Regions from separate parts of the Homo sapiens genome. Here all the other regions are linked to region 1. Evidence: fine-mapped expression QTL. A gene starts in region 1. Each other region holds a variant in brackets. All regions are shown on one strand. Distances are between the middles of the regions.

Region 1 (5,154 bases):
CAGGACATGTTTTTCAAGAACTGCCACAAAACTATATTCATAGGGCCCTCCAATCTTGTAACTTGTTGACAATGCAGAATTTCCAAGAAATTACTTGGAAAAGGTAAAATGTGTGTTCAAATAGTCTTGTCAGTGCAGAAAGATTCAAAAGTTAATGTTCTAGTACATGACTGACTATATTATTTTTCCAAGGAGCATATTTTCAGAATTGACTATTTTTAAACTGCATACTGAGTGCACACATAGATTACAAATGTGCTAGTGTTTCATTATGATTGCATATAACATCATGATTACACATTGAATAACGGAATTGATCGGACGTTACATTTTCCTGTAAAAGCACTGTGGGTAAACAATGTCTGGAATCAATCATCCACTATAAATTGGTCCACAATTTCCTGAACTGAGGGGGAAAACATCTGATTAAAAGCCACAACTAAAACAAGTTTCTGAAGTAGTACAGATAACGTCCTGCTTACATGAGGTAGATAATTCTTTCCTCCATTCCTGCACATCAGCTAAAGATATACTTTCAAGTCTGGCAAATCAAATGGCATGATCCGAATCAATGTGCTCTACACTTTGGAATCTATGAGATGTTTATGTACCTACCAAGTTTAGAGAGGAGAGTAAACTTTTTTAAAACTTTCAAACACATCAGAATGTAATACAAACTGAAGCAATGTGTTTTGTTTACATAACTGTATTTAAGTGGCAGAAATATTTTAAGACATCCATTTTAGTCGTTTGCTCCTTTCATCCTTTTTATTTTCTGAACTTTTAGCTTTTTCACCTAGACTCAAATTCTGCCCTACCCCATTCTGGACTCCTTTTAGAAATATCCTATTTTAACATGCTAGTTTAAAAATCGTTTTGCTTTCATCATTCCCAATTACTTTTGAGCATCAGTCTGACTTTTACTACAGAGCCACAGATTTCCAAAAAATATACCTCCTTATTTATTTCATTCTTTCAACCTCTGGGAAAAACCAAAACTGGAGTTTAACTTGAATCTGTCTTTCCATTTCTGGAGAAAATGTTTCCTTTGGCTGCTGAAATTAACGCAATCAGACATGTGTGGAAACAAGCAGCTATGAGCATCCCTGACTTTCGAAGCTACACCCCTTCTTTTGGCTACCCACCCATACGTCTTCATTTGATAACCGTTCAAAAAGTTTCTTCCTGCCAGGCGGGTTTGCAGCACTTTCTCGGAGCAGGCACAGCATGCCACCTGCACGGGTGCACGCTCGCAAGAAAGCAGCAAGGGCTAAGGGACAGGAGGGCTGGGGAGGGGAGGCACGGGGCAAATCAAAACTCAATCCCAACAGCGTTAACTGGCATTTTAGGCCGAAGCTCCGGATTCGGAGGCTGGGGAGGAAGTAGCTAGCGCTGGCCTCGGCTGCCTGGCACGACCCGCGCCCGTCCTACCTGCCTGGGGGAAACTCGGGCGGCGGAAAGTCTCCCCGCCCCCAGCCGTCCCAGGCGTGGGGCCAGACAGGCGAGGGGGGCGGAAGGGGGGCGGCGGCGGGGGTCCAAGATCCAGGGCCGCAGCGGGCTCCCGGTGGGCTGGCGAGAAGAGGAGGGCGTCGGGGCCCCCGGGCTCGCCCCCCACCTGCCCCCCTTACCTTGGGCAATGGCAATAGACTCGAAGCGGTGCAGCTCTTTGAGCAGGCAGCTCCTCTCCGTGGAGTGCAGGCTGTAGATGAAGTCGCGCGCGCCCTGCGCCGTGTTCAGCGCCTCCATGGGCTCCTTCTTGGGGTGCGTGCCCAGCCGCCTGGGGCCGCCCGGCAAGCCGCCGGGGGGCGCGAGCGCCAGCAGCCCCCGCCCGCAGCAGCACCAGGACGGCGGGCGGGGCGCGGCGGCGGCGGCCGGGCCCGGCCTCAGGCTGCGCGCGGTCCGGCTCCTCAGCAGCGGCAGCAGCCGGGACATGGCGAGCTGAGGAGCTGGGACCCCCGCGGCCGTCCGGCAAGGCGGTTTCTGGCGCGGCTGAGGCGAGAAGGAGCTGGGCTCAGCTCGACCCCGCCCCGAGGTCCTCCTGCCAGGCAGCCGAGGCGCCGGGCACCATGCACTCCGCGGGCCCGCGCGGCTCTCGCCTCCTGTTCCGTCCCCACTTCCTTTCCAAAAGGCCCGCGGCGGCTCCCGCCCCTCCGATGGGAAAAACTTTCTCTGAGACGGCCGGGCCCGGACAGCGCCCGGAGAGGGCGGGCGGTCGGTGCGGGCGGGCGCCTCCCGGCTGAGGAGGAGCGGCGCGGGCGGGCGGGGCGGGCTAGTGTGTGTCTCTGTCAGTCTGATCTTCCAGAGGATGAGTCAGCCACGCACCGCCCTCCTCCAGCGCCGCCCTACTCTCCCGCCAGCTTTCTCACCCTCTAGCCTCCCCACGTCCCCACTCTGTAAGGTTCCCGAGCCCTCAAAGCAGCCGCGCTCCCGAGCCGCAGCCGCCGCCGCCGCCGCTACCCCTAGCGGCAGCAGAAGTGGGAACGGGGCGGGGCGAAAGGGGAAGGAGGTGCGGGGGGGCGGGGAGGTGTGTGAGCGAGGCTGCGCAGGCGCAGTCTGCAGGCTCTCGGGCCGCCCTCCCTCCTAGGGGAGGAGCGTGCACACGCGTCCCCTCCCGCGCTGGTGCGTGAAGGTGGAAGGAGGTAGGGTGCGCCACCCTGTGCTGGCGTTAAACCTACAGATCGGAATAGGGAAAACGAGCTCTGGACCCCTCGCCCGCCAGGGTAGTACAGCTGCCACCCGGCCCCCAACCTGGGGCCACATCTGGAGCTTGTTCTGAAAGGTGCCCCGGCGTGCGGCCCCGCTCTGGACAGGCGGAGAGCTGCGCTGCCACCCCAGCCCCGACGGGATCACGGCGCTCTGCTCCGGAACGAAGCGCCCCAGCTGCGCCCTTCGCCAAGTCAGCGCCCACCGCCGCTTCGGCCGAGCAGGCCGGCTCTAATGCAGTCGCTCTGGGCGCCCCAAAGAGAAAGCGAAGCCAGTTCCACCCCTGCCCAAGGAGGGTCTGAGACTGAGCCCTTGACACGAGAACAGTCCTCCCCGTTCAGATTCCAGCAGCTGGCATGCAAATTGTTAATGCTAGAGGCAGAGGCAAGAATGTCATAGACCTTTCCTAGTGGTTGCTTGTGATTTTTTTGTCTCTGTGCTAAAGCGGGAAGAATAATTTGATTGTCCACGATTTCCCCTGATCCAGGTCCTAGGCATCTTTCAAGGCCCAGGTGAAAGGTCTCCTACTTCATTAAGCTGTCCCTAATCTCTTCTAAGGGAGGAGATCTCTGCTTTATCTGAACCTGTCTAATGACGCTTAGGCACCCTTAGAGAATAAATCCACTTAATAAATCTGCTGGAGCGTAATCAAGATCTAAATCCCATCCTTATCATAAACAGTGCTGCACTCAGCCCGGAAACTTGTAGGTAGTAAATGTGCTACATGTAAGTAGAATATTAAACTGAATAATGGAGGATTGTTACCACTAAAGCCTCCTACTTCTCTAACTCTGGTTCTCAAAGTGTGTCCCAGAGCTTTTTAGACGTGAGAAATAGTGGACCCCACTTCACACCTCCTGAATCAGAACGTAGACATTGGACCCAGTCATGTGGGTTTTAACAAGCCCTCCAGTAATAACACACACGAAAGCTTGAGAAACACTGATGTCTCTTAAACATTGAAAGGAATCGCTTCTTTTTTAAATTCCAAGGTGATGCCTCTGTGATGTAATAACAACAATTAAGAATGCTCTCTGTGGAAATGAAAGCTTTTTGAGTGCATAAAGTATATCTTCCTTGTCTTTGAAACCCCCTTCATTCCCTAGTGTGCACTGGAATCCTCTGCAGAGCTATTTCAGTCTCAGGCTCATGGGAGTACCACCCCATCCCCCCCACAATTTCCTACCCCCAAGATATTCTGATTCACTGGGGTGGATCACAGGCCCCAGACCTGGGAAGTGAGGTTTGAAAAAAGTTCTTCAGTAAGAACCCATTCCCAACCACCTCCAGAATAGTAGTTTAGTGTGTAGCCTCCAGAGACAGACTGTGGAAAGTTCGATCCCTGGATCAACCGTCTCCTAACTATGTGTTAGTATTAGATTGTTATAGTAGTGATCCCCAATGAACTACACCTTCTATTATCCGCTCCGTTGTGTGGTCCACCTCTACATTGACTGTGGGCTTGGCTATTTGACTTGTTTTGGTCAATAAATAGGAGGACATCATAAACGTGATATGATACATGTTTGCTCATTGGGGTTTGCTGTAATGCTTTTGCTATATTACTATAGAATATTTAATTCTATTATAAAACAAGAGAAACTAAAATGTAGAAGCAAGTCACTTATGAGAAAGGTTACACATAGAATGAATGGATATGGGTTGAACATAGATAAAAAGGATGGAACAAATGAAAATGCTGCTTTAGATAGAGGCAGAAAGACAAAGTGGACTTTTAAGTATTAATAAGGTACAGATCATACTATCTTCAGATTTACAGCCATGTCATCCCTAAATTGCATACCTACTGGTAACACCCATTGTAACGCTATTATGGCCTCATGTAATCTCTTCCCAAGAAAAGCAGATAAACCCCCAGCTACAAAGCCAACTAATGCCAGCTACCATTATAACCAGACACACTTGCCCCTCAGCTCTGTAACAGAACAGACATATGTTGAGCCCAGGCCCCTTCAGTCTGTTGAGTCACCTTACTTACTCTCCAGTCTGGTCCTTGTAGCCACACTATGTGCTGAGAAGACTGGATGGTGGAGAGGGATAAGACATGAGAACATTGCATAAAACAGAATTTAGGTGCTATGGTCCTTCAGCCTATCCTAAGCTTATTAATCTACCCTATCTCTTTCCCCTTGCTTCTCACTCTGTTTTATGTTGGTTGGTAAACTCTTCTGGTTATTATTGCTGCTCTTTGGGTAGACACATTATGCCAAAACTTAGTAGTTTAATTAGCCAATTTATTTTGCTCTTAATTTTGAGGCTCAGAAATTGGGGAAGAACTTACTTGGACAGTTATTTTATTGGAGTCGTTTATGTAGTATCAATCAGATTTCAACACAACTGCTGTCATTTGAAAGTTCAGCTGGGCTGAATAGCTAAGATGGCTCACTGACATGGCTGACTGGTAGCTCAAATGGGGCTGAGAACCAGAGC
Region 2 (5,154 bases), 43 kb before region 1:
AAAAGTCTATTTGTCTAAATGCTTTACCTAAAGTCTTAATGATTAATAAATATTAAATATAGCTTAATTAAAATTGAGCTATAGTCTGAGATATAGTAAAAAATATCCTTGTTCATTATGATATTAAAACTTTATAATCACAATAGAAAAATTATTAGGAAAATGTAGACCACATTAATTTATGAACTCAAAATAGAAGCAGTGAGAGAAAGAACTTACAGCAACAATCATAATTGCATTATCCAAAAAGCCAAACCCTATGAAAGGTATCGCATTGTGGATGAATACTGAAAAACATCAAAAACAGAAAAATATATTTTAAGATTTCTATAACTTAGAATGACAAAAACAGATGATATGATCAAAGTATCCTAAACAGACTTGATAATCTCTAGAATTTGATTCTCATTTTCCAGAGCCAATAGATGCTGCTACTGCTATAAGTAGAAACTATATTGGGAAAAAACAAAACAAACCAGAAAAAGTATAAAACATGTAAAAATAACTGTGTTAGACTTTTGTGTTTTCTTACTGGTAACACACACACACACACACACACACACACACACACAAATATATACATACAATTAACAGAACAAATTAGTAAACATATATGAGTACCACATTTTACCTGATTGCTACTGACATTAATCTCTTTTTCTATTATGACTAAAGTCTGATATTATAAAATCGATTTCTGTATTAGAAATAATGAAAATGTCCTAAATCAAATGTCAGAAAAGTTATTTGGGTGCTTTTACTAACTAATTTTTTTAAAGAAATGTTAGAAAAAGGTGATTATCTCATCTATATTACCTCATCTATGTGCAGTCTTTTTCCCCCCTCAAAATTCATCAATATTCCCAAATGCTATTGCAAACTATAAACAATCAATATTTGATTTAAATCAAACTATCACTTCACCTCTTGCTACCAAAAACACACCTTACTTCATCTATTGGGTATATAAATTCAATGATCTGAGATATTAGAAGTGTAACTAGGTCACGCCTGTAATCCTAGCACTTTGGGAGGCTGAGGCGGGCGGATCATGAGGTCAAGAGATCGAGACCATCCTGGCCAATATGGTGAAACCCCATCACTACTAAAAATACAAAAATTAGCTGGGTGTGGTGGTGCGTGCCTGTAGTCCCAGCTACTTGGGAGGCTGAGGCAGGAGAATCACTTGAACCCAGGCAGCAGAGGTTGCAGTGAGCTAAGATTGCACCACTGAACTCTAGCCTGGCAACAGAGCAAGACTCCATCTTAAAAAAAAAAAAAAATTGTAACTAGGAAGAACTAATACCTACATATTTTTTATACATTTATTCTCATTTCTTTCATATTTACATCTTCAGCAGAATATTGAGGGCATGGTAGATGCTCAAAAAATATTATTTCATTAAGTTGAAGACCACTAACCTGGAAAGGAAGAGAATTCCAGATTGGGAGAATTGAAGGCAGACTGTGAAATAGATTAAAAGCTGGGAATAGGTAAAAGACTTTATTCTAATTAATCTATAAAATTGCCAAGGTATAGTGAACATCCGTTCAACTGAGGACTTTTCTCAACAAACATTAAAATGCTGAGTTTTGTACTACGTCCAAAAAAATAATCCCTTAAACCAACTGGTTATATGTGTCTATTAATTTTTAGAGTCTTTTTTTCTTTTAATGCAGTTATCTCCACAGAAAGTATAATTGAAATATAATCCAGAAGTTATAAAAATTCGATATTACTATATTGAGCTCTGCACCTAGCAGGAAAGGCTAATAAGCACTCAAAAAAAAGCACTTCTACCCACAACCACTATAAATGACTAAGACCACGGGACAATACTATATACAGTATAAGAATACTATTATATTCAATATTATTATAGCTATACAATATTATATAAACCAGTACATAATAGGTATAAAATAGGTCATTTAAAATTTCGTCTTGTTTTAAGTAAAAATGTCCAAGATCAAG[GACA/G]ACATTTTTAATTACAAAGAATATTATTTGTTATTAAAGGTTGTAAAAATCAAGTAAAACATTAATAAAATGGGATTTTTTTTCAATTAAAGAGTCTAGCCTTAGTTTTTTCACTTATTGCCTAAATCTGGTTATTTACTGAACACTCAAAATTTTATAAAAAGCAGCTTCCAGAACCAATACACATTACAAATTTAACAGGTTAGAAGAGTATAATGAAATTCTAAAAAATCACTAAATAAAACATTTACAGTGAAGAGAAAGCTACTTAAGTACTGAAAAATAATGATGAAACTGGTTAGGATTAATTAGCATTTTGGGATTCTTTTAATAGCATCTCTAAAACTGGCCAGTTACAAATATCTTAAAATTAGGTGATAAGCCCATTAAGTTAAGATTACACTAATTGCTATCTTAGTAAAAACTTGGTCAGTAAAACCAAGGCACTCTGTTACAAACAATCACTTTGAACTATACGATGTATGTTTTTAGTGTTTATACCTATATAAATATGTCCTAAAAATTATAATTTATTTTAACTAAAAGGAAAAAATATAGTTTTTCAAAAAGTTAAATAAACATGTACAGAGCACTCCACTGGGCACCTGAGATACAAAGATAAATAAGACTTGGTTCCCAGCCCTAAAGGGGTTTAGGTATGATAACACAGCCATACAAACAGTAAATTTCAATACCACCTACAAAAAATGATAATAGTATACAGTATTATGAACTATAGATTGTATGAATCTAAGGTGGGAGAATCATAAATTACTTGGGAACACAAGTGTTAAAGAATTTTTAAATTGTTTTGGTATTTGAGGAAAGTTACTAATCTCTAATATAAATTACATTCTACCTGTCAGAGAAAAAATAACTGGCCATTAGGTTTTTTTAAAAATTATATAAATTTGCTCTCTAGTATATAATGATCTCCTACTAATTTGTGGCTTCTTCAATTTACTCTCAGAAACACTATTCTATAACTTGCCAGTTGTTAGCAAATCACGTTTCATATTTAGCTTTAATTTACAACCTACTCTAATTCACTATACTGTTAAATAATTCACTTCTTCCATCTTTATAATAACATCCCAACTTGTTTTACATTATTTTGGTATATTCTTGAATATTTATTCCTATCATAATAGAGAAAAGAAAGAACACTAGCAGCATTGTAATAAGGTCCTTCTTCACGTAGTTTTAAATAAACTTTATTCTTTTCATTCTTACAAACAGCCAGCCGGAAACATTTTCTCTACCAGAGAACAGTTGTATCTCGCCTTGGGCCTAGAAATTCTAGTTCTGCATTTACCCAACTTAAATTCAAACTAAAGTAAATACATCCTTTTTCCTAGAAATTAAGAAAACTTCTATCATAAAAATAATTCTATTTCTAAATGGCAACAATATTTTAATAATATTAGATATTTTTAACAATATTAGATATTTTACAATATTGTGTTACATCCTTAGCCAAGTTTATAAACTTTGTGCTTCATATAATGAACAGGATAATCCACTCTATCTGGAAAGATTTAATTTACTGACTCTTCTGTGCTATCAATGAATGATACAGTTATTTCAAGGCCAAAAGACAGATGAACATATATTTAACAATTATAGAACCATTACCATATCTCAGCTGTCCTGGGGTGGGTGGTGGAGCTTCCAATTTTTCTAAAGGGGAGAAAAAGGATGTGGGGCAAGAATTAGTTACTACAGCGTGATATTTTTTATTACAATGAAGAAAATACCAGAAGATTTACAACGTGGGAGAATATCAGAGTTTATTCATAAATTATCTTTAGGTTAAGGGACCACATTTGTCCATACAGAAAATATTAATCAGTATGGATTAAATCAGAAGGCCAGCAAATGAAACTGAGCTTAGTTACAAGCTTAACATGGACTCTAGCCCTGGGTAAGTTCATTTGTTTTTTGTTTTTCAGATTTCTTTAAAGTCCTTACATCTAGATAATGAGTCTGTTTGCATTAATTACACTAGAAAAACACTTTAGAAATAAAGGTACTCTTCTTTCAGATGGCAACCCTAGATGACTTAAGAAATACACAAACAAGCATCATTGATAGTGGAAAACATGAATATTCAAATAGATCTAGATATCTTTAAAATGAAGAAAATATTTTTAAAGCAATGTATGAAAACAATGACTTCACTGAATTGTATTTTGTTCCTTAATCTCTGTTGATATAACTGAATATTTTAACTTTTATAATATATTAATAGTATTATATAATATTGATATATATTAATTAATATATAAGATATATTATATTGATATATAATATAACTGAATATTTTAACTTTTGGAACCTATACACTGGATAATAGGGTATTCCATACATTAAAACAACTTTTAAAAGTAGGGTGTTGTTCAGAATCACAAGTAACAAAGTTTTCCCAAGTATAAGCCAGAGAGTATCTTTACGTGTCAACATTATACCTAAAAATTAACAATTATTACAGGCAGCAGCCTACCTGGTCTTATAACAATAAGCATCTCACCATTTGTTTAAGGTAAAAAGGTAGAAAATTCTACCTTCTTTATGATCAACCAACTGGACAGAATTAATTGTTATCATATAGAGAAGAACCCATAGAGTGGATCACTCTAAAGATTTAGTACAACCAGATTATCCAAAGAAACGCATTACAAACTAGATGTACATCTTCAAAAATATTTATTTATATTTTATAACAACAAAAGAACTAAGGAATTTAGTATAAAAAAGTAAAAGTCAAATCTCCATTGATAACCTACATAAAAGGAAATATGGTCCACATTAGTGACTGGTATTTTCCAAGTTCCATAATGGCTTTACAGTAAGAAATACACTAAAACCTCGAGTTTAATTAACTTTCATAGTATTTAGAAAGTTCTAAGAAGCAAACTTAAGCTTTATTTTTCCTTTTTTAGAAGAATTAAGAAATGAAGATATATATACTAATCTTACAGAATTTCACATCTGATTAAAATATATTCTTATTTTTGATTAGCATCATTAACTCAAAATCTCCTTTGAAAGCATCCAAGTGGTTTGCCAAATTTCTAACTAAGAATACAGGATACTGCTATACTCCAGAGAATTTTCTGGTGAAGTAAACATGCAAAAGTGGTTATTTACATACCAGAACTATTTGTTAGTTGCAT
Region 3 (5,154 bases), 190 kb before region 1:
AGGACGAGAAAAATGCATAGATTTCAGAGCGTTTGGAAGCTCTGGCCAACGGGACTTGATTATTAATGAGAGGTGCAGAGTGTGTGTGTGTGTGTGTGTGTGTGTCTGTGTGTGTGTCTGTGTGTGTGTGTGTGTGTGTGTGTGTGTGTGTGTGTGTGTGTGTGTGTGGTGTTTGGGTGGGGTGGTGCTAGCTGCAAGGGCATGAAGCCTGAGTTTATAAAGGGAGTGTCTGCTGTCACAGGCGTTCTGGGGAAAGGGCTGTAGCTCTGCTCCCCTTCGTGCCATGCCTTGCTCCCACCAACAGCTGTTTCTTTCTACCTGGACAACAGATGCCTGAACATCCTAGGACCTATCCTCTTTTTAGAGATTACACGTTTGTGTTGTAATAATCCATTGTGTGTCTGCCTCCTCTGATTGAGCTGTGAATTTCTTATGGCAGGGACTGGGGCTGGGAGAAGTACTGACATAGCACTCACTAAGTTCAGTCTTCAGACCACTAAATTGGGGGTTAGGATTGAACATGCAGTTTCTGGGGCTCCAACTCCAGACTTCTAGAATCAGATTCACTTGAAGTAGGGCCCAGGAATCTGCCTGTTAATCAACACCCCAGGTACATCTGAAGCTTAAGAAGTTTAAGATTGTGCTTGTTACATGCCAAGAAAGATTCCTTTGGACTATAAAGGGAGATCCCTTGGACTATAACGTCAAGAGGATATACAGTAAAGAGGACAAGCTCTGGAGTCAGCCTGAGACCTATTTCAGATCTTCATTGAACCTCAGTGCTCCCATCTCTAGACTGGGGTACTATGCCCACTCCTCAAGGATAAGTGGGCTACTGTAATCTGTGAAGCACAGGATGTGGCACAAGGCACCCACTCAATGAACACTGGTTGAATAAACTTGCAAAAGACGGTGACCGCAGCATGCAAGCAGATTTGTTTGCATTTTCGTCTCAGATTTCCTTTGCTACTTCATAGTCACTAAATACCAGTTTGACTTGAACAGCAGTTACATGCTAATGACAAAAAGCAGTGGCGTGCTTGTTCTCAGAAACCTGAGAATCCACTGGCTCTGTTAAAATGAAATTCTACTGAGTTGACCACAAGGACATTTCCTTGTCCCCAGAAAAAGACTCGCCTAAATTAAGTTGCAGTGTAACCTCTTCCAAATGTTGCCCAGACTGAAGAGTGCTTTCATATTATTCCTTTATCCAACTCTCTTTCCATCTGGCCTCTTTGTAAAATTCTTCCTCCGTTGTTTCAGAACTAAAATGACACCTTCTTAGAATTCCAGCATGCTACTTCTCAGTAGAAAGTGTGGTATATCAGAGGCAGCGGGCTTGGGAGTCCGTTGGGAGGCCTGATTTGGAAGGCCAGCTCCAGCAGTTACAAGCCGAGCAACCCTGAGCAAGTCACGTAACTCTTCTAAGCCTTGATGATAATCTCTGTAAAGTGGGTATGACAACAGTTTCCACATTATAGGGCTATTATGAGGATTAAGTCATCCTTGCACAGCCCTTAGAATGAAGGTTAGCACAGAGTAAGCACGTAGGTTGGCTGTTTTCAGATGTATTCAGTGGCAAATATGTGGCTGGTCCCTGAATCTCTCGGCTTTGTAGACTTATATGCTCTTTAACTCCACTCAGTGAGGCCTGTCTCTCTCTCTCTCTTAGGTCCAATTTCCATGTTCAATTCATAATCAAACCTACCTCAAAAAAAAGAAGTGAAGAAAATTTTCGCCACTAATGTGTTATTGAAGTGTCACCCTCAAATAATGAAATTCAGAAAATATGATGAAGTATTGAGTTTATTTCAGCACAAAGCTTGAGGATAGCCACTTGGGAAACATAGACTCCAAAGGAATGGGGTCAGTGCTCCAAAGTGGAGAAGTTAAGGTTTCACTTATAAGGCAGAGACAGAGAAGTGTAATAGGGTTACAACATTTTCCATGCAAGGTCAGTACATGTTACAGTGATTTGATTGGTTACAGCTTGTTGCATGCCAAGGAAGGTTCCTTTAACATTCCATAAGGAGGGGTAATGGCCTGGAAAGGTCTTAACTCTGGCACCATTCGGTCCTTCCGAATCATTTACAGGAAAAACCAGAAGTTGCAGCTGCATGCTATATGACTCAGGTCACATGGCCGCATTGCTCTCAAGGCTCAACATAATTTAAAGTTCCGCCAGCTTTAGGTTTGAATTATTTAATTTCACAACAGAAAGTAACTTTTCCTCT[G/C]ACCTTTTCTGGAAGAATTCGTGGTTTCCTAAATTCCAGCCCAAAACTTATCTCAATGCTGCCAAACATATCTCCATGAATCAGCCAAATTCCTCAATAGGAAGGAAGCTTTTAAAAATAAAAATTAGACCCATTGACTGGGCATAATGAATAATAGAAGTAGTAGAAGGAAGTTATAATACTCATCCTTCCACTCTTAATTTCTGCCCAGGGTTCACGGCAAAGCAGCTTTGTGGCCCAGGCATTTTGTAAAATGGCTGTGGCTAGTGGCAGAAGGCACTTTGTGGCTCCTGCTGGACTAGGACTAGGCTGTCCTGAGCAGCTGCAATTAAAATCAGAGCACTTGGGTAGAGTCTGAAGTCTGTCTCAACAGGAGGACAGTATGCCAGCTATAGCTGCTCCCTTCTCTAGGGCTCATCTCCTTAGAACAGCGGTTCTCAAACTTTGCTGCATTTTGGAATCCCCATGTTGGAAGATGGGGAGTTTTGAAAAATCTTAATGCCCAGGCCAATTACTTAAGAATTTCTGACTTGGGGGGAGAGGGTGGGGTGGGGATATGTAGGACTCAAGCATCAGTAATAGTGTTTCAAATTTTAATGTGCATATGAATTGCTTTGTTAAAAATTGTTTCAACGTTGAATACAGATTCAGATTCAATAGGTCTGGGTTGAGGAAAGCGATTCTGCATTTCCAACAAGCTCCCAGGTGAGTCTTCACTGCTGGTCTAAGGAGCAGAATTTGGGTAGCAAAGTCTTAGACAGTTCTTCCTCCCACCGCATCCTGTACATCAAAATTAGTGCCTGACCCTCACCGGTCCATTGCCCAAGGTTGTAACATCAGAGATGAAGGCCTTTTCATTAGTTTATTTATTTCCAGGACCCAGTCTAAGGAAAGTGAGCTAATTATTATGGATTTATCTGCATTATCTTGTTTAAGGAGAAGACACTTAGAAAAATGGGAATTGAAATTTGTTCTTGCCATCAGATCTTGCTGATCTATAAAACACCATTATCCTTATACTTATTATTATAGAACTTTCCATTTTGAGCTTCTCCTTTCTTCCAGCTCCCAGGTCCTATAATAATATTCTTTAAGGACTTGCCCACATGGAGCAAAGCCAAATGGTGCAATGGTTCAGGAAGGTCACTAAGGGCCAAATGGTGTGTGCTTAAATTCTGGCCCTACCACTTAGTGGCTGTGTGAACATGGATGATTTATTTAACCTCTCTGTGCCTCGGCTTTCCCATCTGTAAATTGGAAGTTATAGTAAGTAAATGAATATATCTACAAGTAAAGGCTAAATGCTGTCCCTAGAACCTTATGTGAATTAACTCTCTTAGTCCTTATAATAATTTTACCAGGTTAACTTATCATCCCCATTTTGTAGATGGGTTAAGGATTTTGCCTGAGGTCACACAGCCAGGATTTGAGACCAGGTAGCCTGACTCCAATACTCATCCTGTTAACTACCAAGATGGACTATCTCTCACATGTAGCAGCTAGAACTACAACGGTGGTCTGCTAACTCTCAGCAAGGGGCTCCAGGACTGGGTCATACTTCAATTGTCTGCCATAGTCAGCCACAATCCCTCAATCCCACAGTCCCCCTGCAGTCTCGCATAAGGCCCTAACACCTACGCAGCCACTGTGCAAAGAACATGCTCCACCACCCCCCTTCTATGGGCTGACAACTGGACCATCTCAGGCAAGGTCTTTTGCATCAGCTCAATTCAATGAATCATCCACATGGCTGTTCACTTTCAGAGCACATTCTAAACACTGCTCTGAGTCAGCCTCCTGTGCTCAGTTTTGGAGGTGCTCAGATGAATTCAAACAAGCCCCTGCTTTAGGGAGCTCAGAGGGGCCTCAGGGAGGAGACAGATGTGTGAGAGATGCCTATGGTAACTCTCAGGAAGTGTTTAAAAGGGGAAATGAGGCCAGGTGTGGTGGCTAACGCCTATAATCCAAGCATTTTGGGAGACCGAGGTGGGCGGATTACCTGAGGTCAGGAGTCTGAGACCAGCCTGGCCAACATGGCGAAACCCCATCTCTACTAAAAATACAAAATAATAATAATAATAATAATGAGCTGGGCGTGGTGGCGCATGCCTGTAGTCCCAGCTACTCGGGAGGCTGAGGCAGGAGAATCACTTGAACCCAGGAGGCAGAGGTTGCAGTGAGCTGAAATGGCACCACTGCACTCCAGCCTGGGTGACAGAGTGAAACTCTGTCTCAAAAAAAAATAGAAAAATAAAAAATAAAAAGGGGTAATGAGCAAAGAGAGAAAAGCTCTGGCTGGGCACATCAGGGAATGCTTCTAAGAGGTAACACATAAGCTCAAGAATTATCAGGCAAATTAATGAATTAATCAGTTCACTGATAACACCATGCCTTGGTGCTAAAGATACAAGGGTATACTGGATAATTTGTTTCCTCCTCAGATCTGTTGGCTACTTCTCCCACCTGCTCTGTGCCCCCAGGAAGCTGACCCAGATGGACTACATTAGCAGGCTGCTTTGCCCTCTGGCTTCGGGTTGTGTTTGGCCAGGGAGAGGCATCAAGAGGAGATTAGCAGGTGGAAGAAGAATGAGGTTGGGTGTTTATTCCCTAAAGCATGGCCCCACAGGGTTGCCTAAAGTTGATTGCATTCCTCCACCCAAGGCCTTGGCTCCTGTTGGGTGACCCTCTCTATAGCTCTTCGAGTTCTAGATTTCTTCACTTGTCCTTTCAGACCTATAAGGAGGCTTCCTGCAGGGATTAAAAATTCCCCAGATGGAGTAAGAAAAAAAGCCATTACTTATTTATTCAATCAATGCATATTTATTGAACATTCAGATATCAGACCCATTTGAATGAAATGCTGAGCTTGGAAGTTTTAATAATGGTGGGAAATGGGGGGAAGGAATAAGTCAGAAACAGA
Region 4 (5,154 bases), 91 kb before region 1:
GGAAGGAATGTCTGGCATATAGCAGGTGCTCAATAAATGTCCATTCTTATTAGAATTTCTGGAAGAAACAGGCAATGGTTCCCTGAAATACCACTGGACTGTCACAAGCATTTCAGTTGGGTTTCATGCACTGTCTGAAGAGATTGATCCAAGCACCTTGGATACATCCGTAGCTCAACATTAAAAGGCCAAGGTTATATCTTCCACTCCCATCCTTCCCCTCCAGAGCCCCCCTCGGTGGAAATGACAGAGTCAGGTAAGACACCTTCCTGGGGGAAAGCATATCTGCACTCAGGGAACATGTTCAAGAATTCAGCCTCTGCCTCTTCAGGCCTTATATGATGTATGGATTACAGTATAAAAAGATCAAATATCTGGAGGCACAGGACTTGGATTCTAATCTTGGATCCTAATTCTGGCCCTGTTGGTTACCAGCTGTGTGATCTTGGCTAAGTCACCTACCCTCTGTAAGCCTCAAATTCCTCATCTGTAATATGGAGGACCTACCTCACAAATCAGATGATGAGAGGGAGAATGTTTGGGGGTATAGCCATACTATACAGTATGGCTCAGGCCTAAGGTTCTTGAATTTGCTTGTTTTTCCTCTTGGCCTATTTTACTACAGGTTAAAAATCTGTTATCTGGCCAGGTGCAGTGGCTCACACCTGTAATCCTAGCACCTTGGGAAGTCAAGGTGGGTGGATCACTTGAGATCTCAAGTTTGAGATCAGCCTAGGCAACATGGTGAAAACCTGTTCTACAAAAAATACAAAAATTAGCCGGGTGTGGTGGGGCACACCTGTAGTCCCAGCTGCTTGGGAGGCTGAGGTGGGAGGATCGCTTGAGCCCAGGAGGCGGAGGTTGCTGTGAGCCAAGATGGCACCACTGTACTCCAGCCTGGGTGATAGAGCCAGACCTTGTCTCAAAAACCAAAACAACGACAACAAAATCTCTCTTATCTACAATTCCAAAATGCAAAAGCATCTGAGAAACAATATTTTTTTGTAATTCATTTGGCTGCAAAACTTGTACTGAATTGATGAGTCCATTTATAGACTTTATCCCACTTATGATGAATATTCATCAGTTTTACTGCAGAAATAATAACGTGTTTGACTTGAGAATGTTGTCTCAGTTACCTCTGGGGGTGTCAAATACTGCATGAGATATTCTGAATTATGAAACTCATCTGGCCCCATGAGTTTTGCTTAACAAGTTATGGACTTATATTCTAGGAGTATATCCTAATCTATACTCATTGATGTATCACCTGCATGATTTTGTCATATCCTTCTAACACCTGTATTAATACTTGCTTCATACACTTTAGTTGAGTCCATTTTTATTTACTTTTCCAAATGAACCTTGTTTAAATGCACAGTGAAAAATACCTAATTATTAATAAAAATGTTTGTCTACATGACATTTCAAAGCATCCTGCTTATCACAGTGAAATGCACCCCACACTTTAAGCAACAGTCATCTCAAACTAGCACAACGGGTTAGCTCTTAAATAGTTGGAATGCAAGCAATAAGGGTGACATCTGTGAGGTGGACTCTTCTTTGAGGTTTTCAGTTATAAATATTCAGCAGTACAATTCCACCAAATGCTGGTTGCATTCCTGCTGTGAACACGACACTGCTTAACCACATAAGCTATGATGTTTTGTTGGAAAACCACAAACAGCCAGTAAAGATGGCTGATGGAGCGCCACTCAGAACAGCTTACCTATGATAAGTTCTTTCACAGACATTCATGTCCATTTCCCTCGTTCACCAACAGGAGAGGTAGTATTAGAAGAATTTAAAACAAAAAACCAGGCCCACACGGATTGAGAGCTTGACCCAAGATCTCACAAGTTCCAGGCAGAGCTGAGAGTCCTGGAATTCAGGTCCCTGCTGCTGACCTGGACATGCCTCTGCTACATAAAGCCACAGTCTTTCCTGCTCAGGGCACTGCTGACGCCACTTTCTGCCCTGGTTTATACGTTAATATTCACAAAAGCTGCTGGGAGCCTGGACTTTCATAAAACCAGCCTGCTCTCGGACTAAAATACCCCCCTGTGGCCTAGTTACGATCCTTTCCTGTTCTCCATTAAAAAGCTCCGCAGTGGCTGAAGGGGTCTCACAAGGCTTTTAGAGGTTTAGCAAATCTTCAAAATGGACCAAGAAGAATTGGTAACTGTCTTAGCATTTTCCACAAAGTTAGAGAAACAGCAGTTAGTGGAAACAGGGCAAGGCCCAGATAATCTGTTCCAAGGCCACATATGACATCATAATTTAGCCTTTTGGTAATCAAAAATTTCCCAATGATCCGAACAAGTAAAGGAAAATCCCAACCCACCTGTATTAGTCCATTCTCACAATGCAATAAAGAACTGCTCGAGACTGGGTAATTTATAAAGGAAAGATGTTTAATTGATTCACAGTTCCGCATGTCTGGGCAAGCCTCAGGAAACTTACAGTCATGGCAGAAGGGGAAGTAAATATGTCCTTCTTCACATGATGGCAGGAAAATAACGCAGAGCGAAGGTGGTGGGGCGGGGGCACTGGGCAGGGAATGCCCCTTATAAAAACCATCAGCTCTTGTGAGAACTCGCTCACTATCACGAGAACAGGACGGCAAAATGGGGGAAACTGCCCCATGATTCAGTTTTCTCCTCCTGGTCCCTCCCAGGACATGTGGGGATTATGGAAACTACAATTCAAGATGAGATTTGGGAGGGGACACAGCCAAACCATATCACCACCCTCTCTTTTTACCAGAATTAATTATTAATGTTTTCGGCTTTCCTTTTGCCCCATGTGTGAGGTCATAAAAAAAAATTATGCTGGGGGCCAGGAATCGTGGGTCTTAAGTTCTGCCCTGATACCACCTAGCCACGGGCCCAGGCAGGCTCTAAGGAGCTGGCCCACGGTGTAGTACGGAATTCCGGTGCTGAGGGAAACAGACATATCTTTTCATCCTACCTCATCTTGCCCTTTGGATGAGTTGTTTTAAATTTCTCTGAGCCCCACCTTTCTTACCTCTAAAACCTATCTCAAAGGTGTTGATACGGATTAAAGAACAAAATGATGTAAAACACTGATCCCAGCCACAGCACAAAGCAAGAGGTAAATAAATAGTAGCTGGTATTGCTACTGCCAATTCAGATAGTCTGGGCCTCGGACCAGGTTATATGAATA[T/C]ATGTAATGAACAGCTCTTGACTTCAGTGATTATGGATTTATCACCCAGAACAGAATGAGTGGGGAAACATCATGCAGCTGACAGACAAGCTCATCACAATTTAATTTCCAAATACATAAATTTTTCTGGCTTTGAAGGGTTATTCAAAGGGTGCCTTGAGAAAATGTCAACCAGCATAATTTTAAATATGGCCGGTTCTTGACTAGTGGTGGAAAAGGAAGTCAGGAAAAATGGAAATAAATACCATTGATGAATAATTATTATTTTAGCCTGCACCTTCAACTTCCAGGTCAGAACTTTAAAAGTGTGTTTACCTGATTTGAGTTTCACCCAGTTATCTTCCTTGGTTTTTCCTTTACTGTAGGGAAATAGCCCAGGTTAGGCAGCCAGAGAGAGGCAAGAGAAGACAGGAGGTCCTGAGGCCCATATTTTGTAAGATAGAGTTGCCTGACCAATTATTGTATCTAGGTGCCTGTTAAAAATGCAGATCTCCCAGCCCCAAATGAATGAGGCTATCTGGGGCTGGTTGTTGAAAATATGCTTTTTTTTTTTTTTTTTTTTTTTGAGACGGAGACTCACTCTGTCGCCCAGGCTGGACTGCAATGGCGCAATCTCAGCTCACTGCAACCTCCACCTCCCAGGTTCAAGCCATTCTCCTGCCTCAGTCTCCCAAGTAGCTGGGATTACAGGTGCCCACCACCACGCCTGGCTAATTTTTGTATTTTTGGTGGAGATAGGGTTTCACCTGGTTGGCCAGGATGATCTCGAACTCCTGACCTCAGGTGATCCGCCCCCCTTGGCCTCCCAAAGTGCTGGGATGACAGGCGTGAGTCCCCACACCCAGCTAAAAATACGCATTTTTAATAGGCACCCTTGATACAACCAAAACTTTGAAAACCACTGATGTTAGGCCACATTATAAGCATGTAATAAATGCCACGTATACTTATCTCAGTAGGATTTCTTCCTGTCTCTAGTAGAAATTTATGGTCAAGGAGGAGTAAAGGACAAGCAAACAAACCATCCTAATAATTGTACAGCCAAAGAATACAGGTGAAAACAAAGTACAGTGGTGTCCCAAGGCAGGGGTGATTAGCCTACTTGAGGGCACAGAGGGACAGTTGTCAGAAAGATTTTCCCCAAGTGGAAGCTTCACCTCATTTTCCAAGTGGGTGAAGTGGGTGAAGTTTAGCAGTTAATGGATGGATGGGGAAACAGAACACAAGCAGGAAGAATAACATGAACAAAGCAGAGAGGCTCATTTGAGGAGCTGCATTGGTTCTGTATGTGGCTGGAAGGCAGGGAGTGAGGTTTGGAGGGATAGCGGAAACATTTCTTCTCAGCTGTGCAAAATTACAAATCATACTTTTCTTCCTCAAAGAAGGAAAGCGATCTCAAGTTTCTGGCATGAGAAAGCATAAACAAATCTCTAGGCTCTACTCTGACTTGATGGTTTTTTCCTTTTCCTGATTTTAAAACTCACTTGCATCCCACACCAAACCCAAGTAGATGCTAAATATAGTCGGCTCTTTGAGCCTTTTCCATTTACTCTGCCGAGTCAGTCTTTTCAATTGTGATTTATGCTCAAATTGTGGTTGAGTTAATTTAGTCAATTAACTTCAGTGAAACCAAAGGTTTATTTTCCATAAAGAATTTTCTTCTTATGCTTTTGAGATATTGTTATAATGAGTTTTGTTATATGCTTATGGATCAACTATTTTAATTGGGTCTATTTCACTTATCTATTACTGTGTAACAAACCATCCCAACATTTAATGGCTTAAAACAACAACCTTTGTATTTGCTCACTCTCTGATATTCAGACTGGGCTTAGTTGGATAAGGTTTCTGCTGATCTTGATGATGATCACTAATTGGCTGAATTCAGTGTGAGTTGGATGGGGGCTGGGCTCCGCTGAGATGCTGAGATGGCAGGGTTTTTCTAAGGCCTTTTTATATAGCCCCTCT

Which allele goes with the higher level. Positions count from the first base shown, and alleles are read on the strand shown. Sizes are in standard deviations (SD) of each study's normalised expression. Not every link is listed here.
For the expression in fibroblasts of the gene that starts at base 2,476 in region 1, G is the high allele of the variant in region 3 and C is the other (large effect, 1.1 SD a copy in GTEx).

What was found. PIP is the estimated chance that this variant, and not a neighbour inherited with it, causes the effect.
Region 2: its variant is fine-mapped to the expression of TMEM65 in whole blood (TOPMed, PIP above 0.99).
Region 3: its variant is fine-mapped to the expression of TMEM65 in fibroblasts (GTEx, PIP above 0.99).
Region 4: its variant is fine-mapped to the expression of TMEM65 in monocytes after LPS (Quach 2016, PIP 0.95).

Annotation. Positions count from the first base shown.
Region 1 is chr8:124,370,226-124,375,379 of GRCh38, forward strand. TMEM65 (transmembrane protein 65) reads right to left here and starts at 2,476. Exons shown (of 7, transcript NM_194291.3): 1 at 1,629-2,476. The coding sequence starts at 1,932. RefSeq lists silencers at 1,499-1,548, 1,559-1,688, 1,739-1,868, 1,999-2,268, 2,389-2,618 and enhancers at 2,343-2,637, 2,849-3,038.
Region 2 is chr8:124,327,135-124,332,288 of GRCh38, forward strand. TMEM65 (transmembrane protein 65) reads right to left here. Exons shown (of 7, transcript NM_194291.3): 2 at 3,614-3,658; 3 at 220-287. Among named protein-coding and RNA genes, the nearest start is that of TMEM65, 43 kb to the right of the region's middle. The variant GACA/G (reference allele first, on the strand shown) is at 1,976.
Region 3 is chr8:124,179,571-124,184,724 of GRCh38, forward strand. No RefSeq gene overlaps it. Among named protein-coding and RNA genes, the nearest start is that of FER1L6-AS2, 11 kb to the left of the region's middle. The variant G/C (reference allele first, on the strand shown) is at 2,235.
Region 4 is chr8:124,278,806-124,283,959 of GRCh38, forward strand. No RefSeq gene overlaps it. Among named protein-coding and RNA genes, the nearest start is that of TMEM65, 91 kb to the right of the region's middle. The variant T/C (reference allele first, on the strand shown) is at 3,187.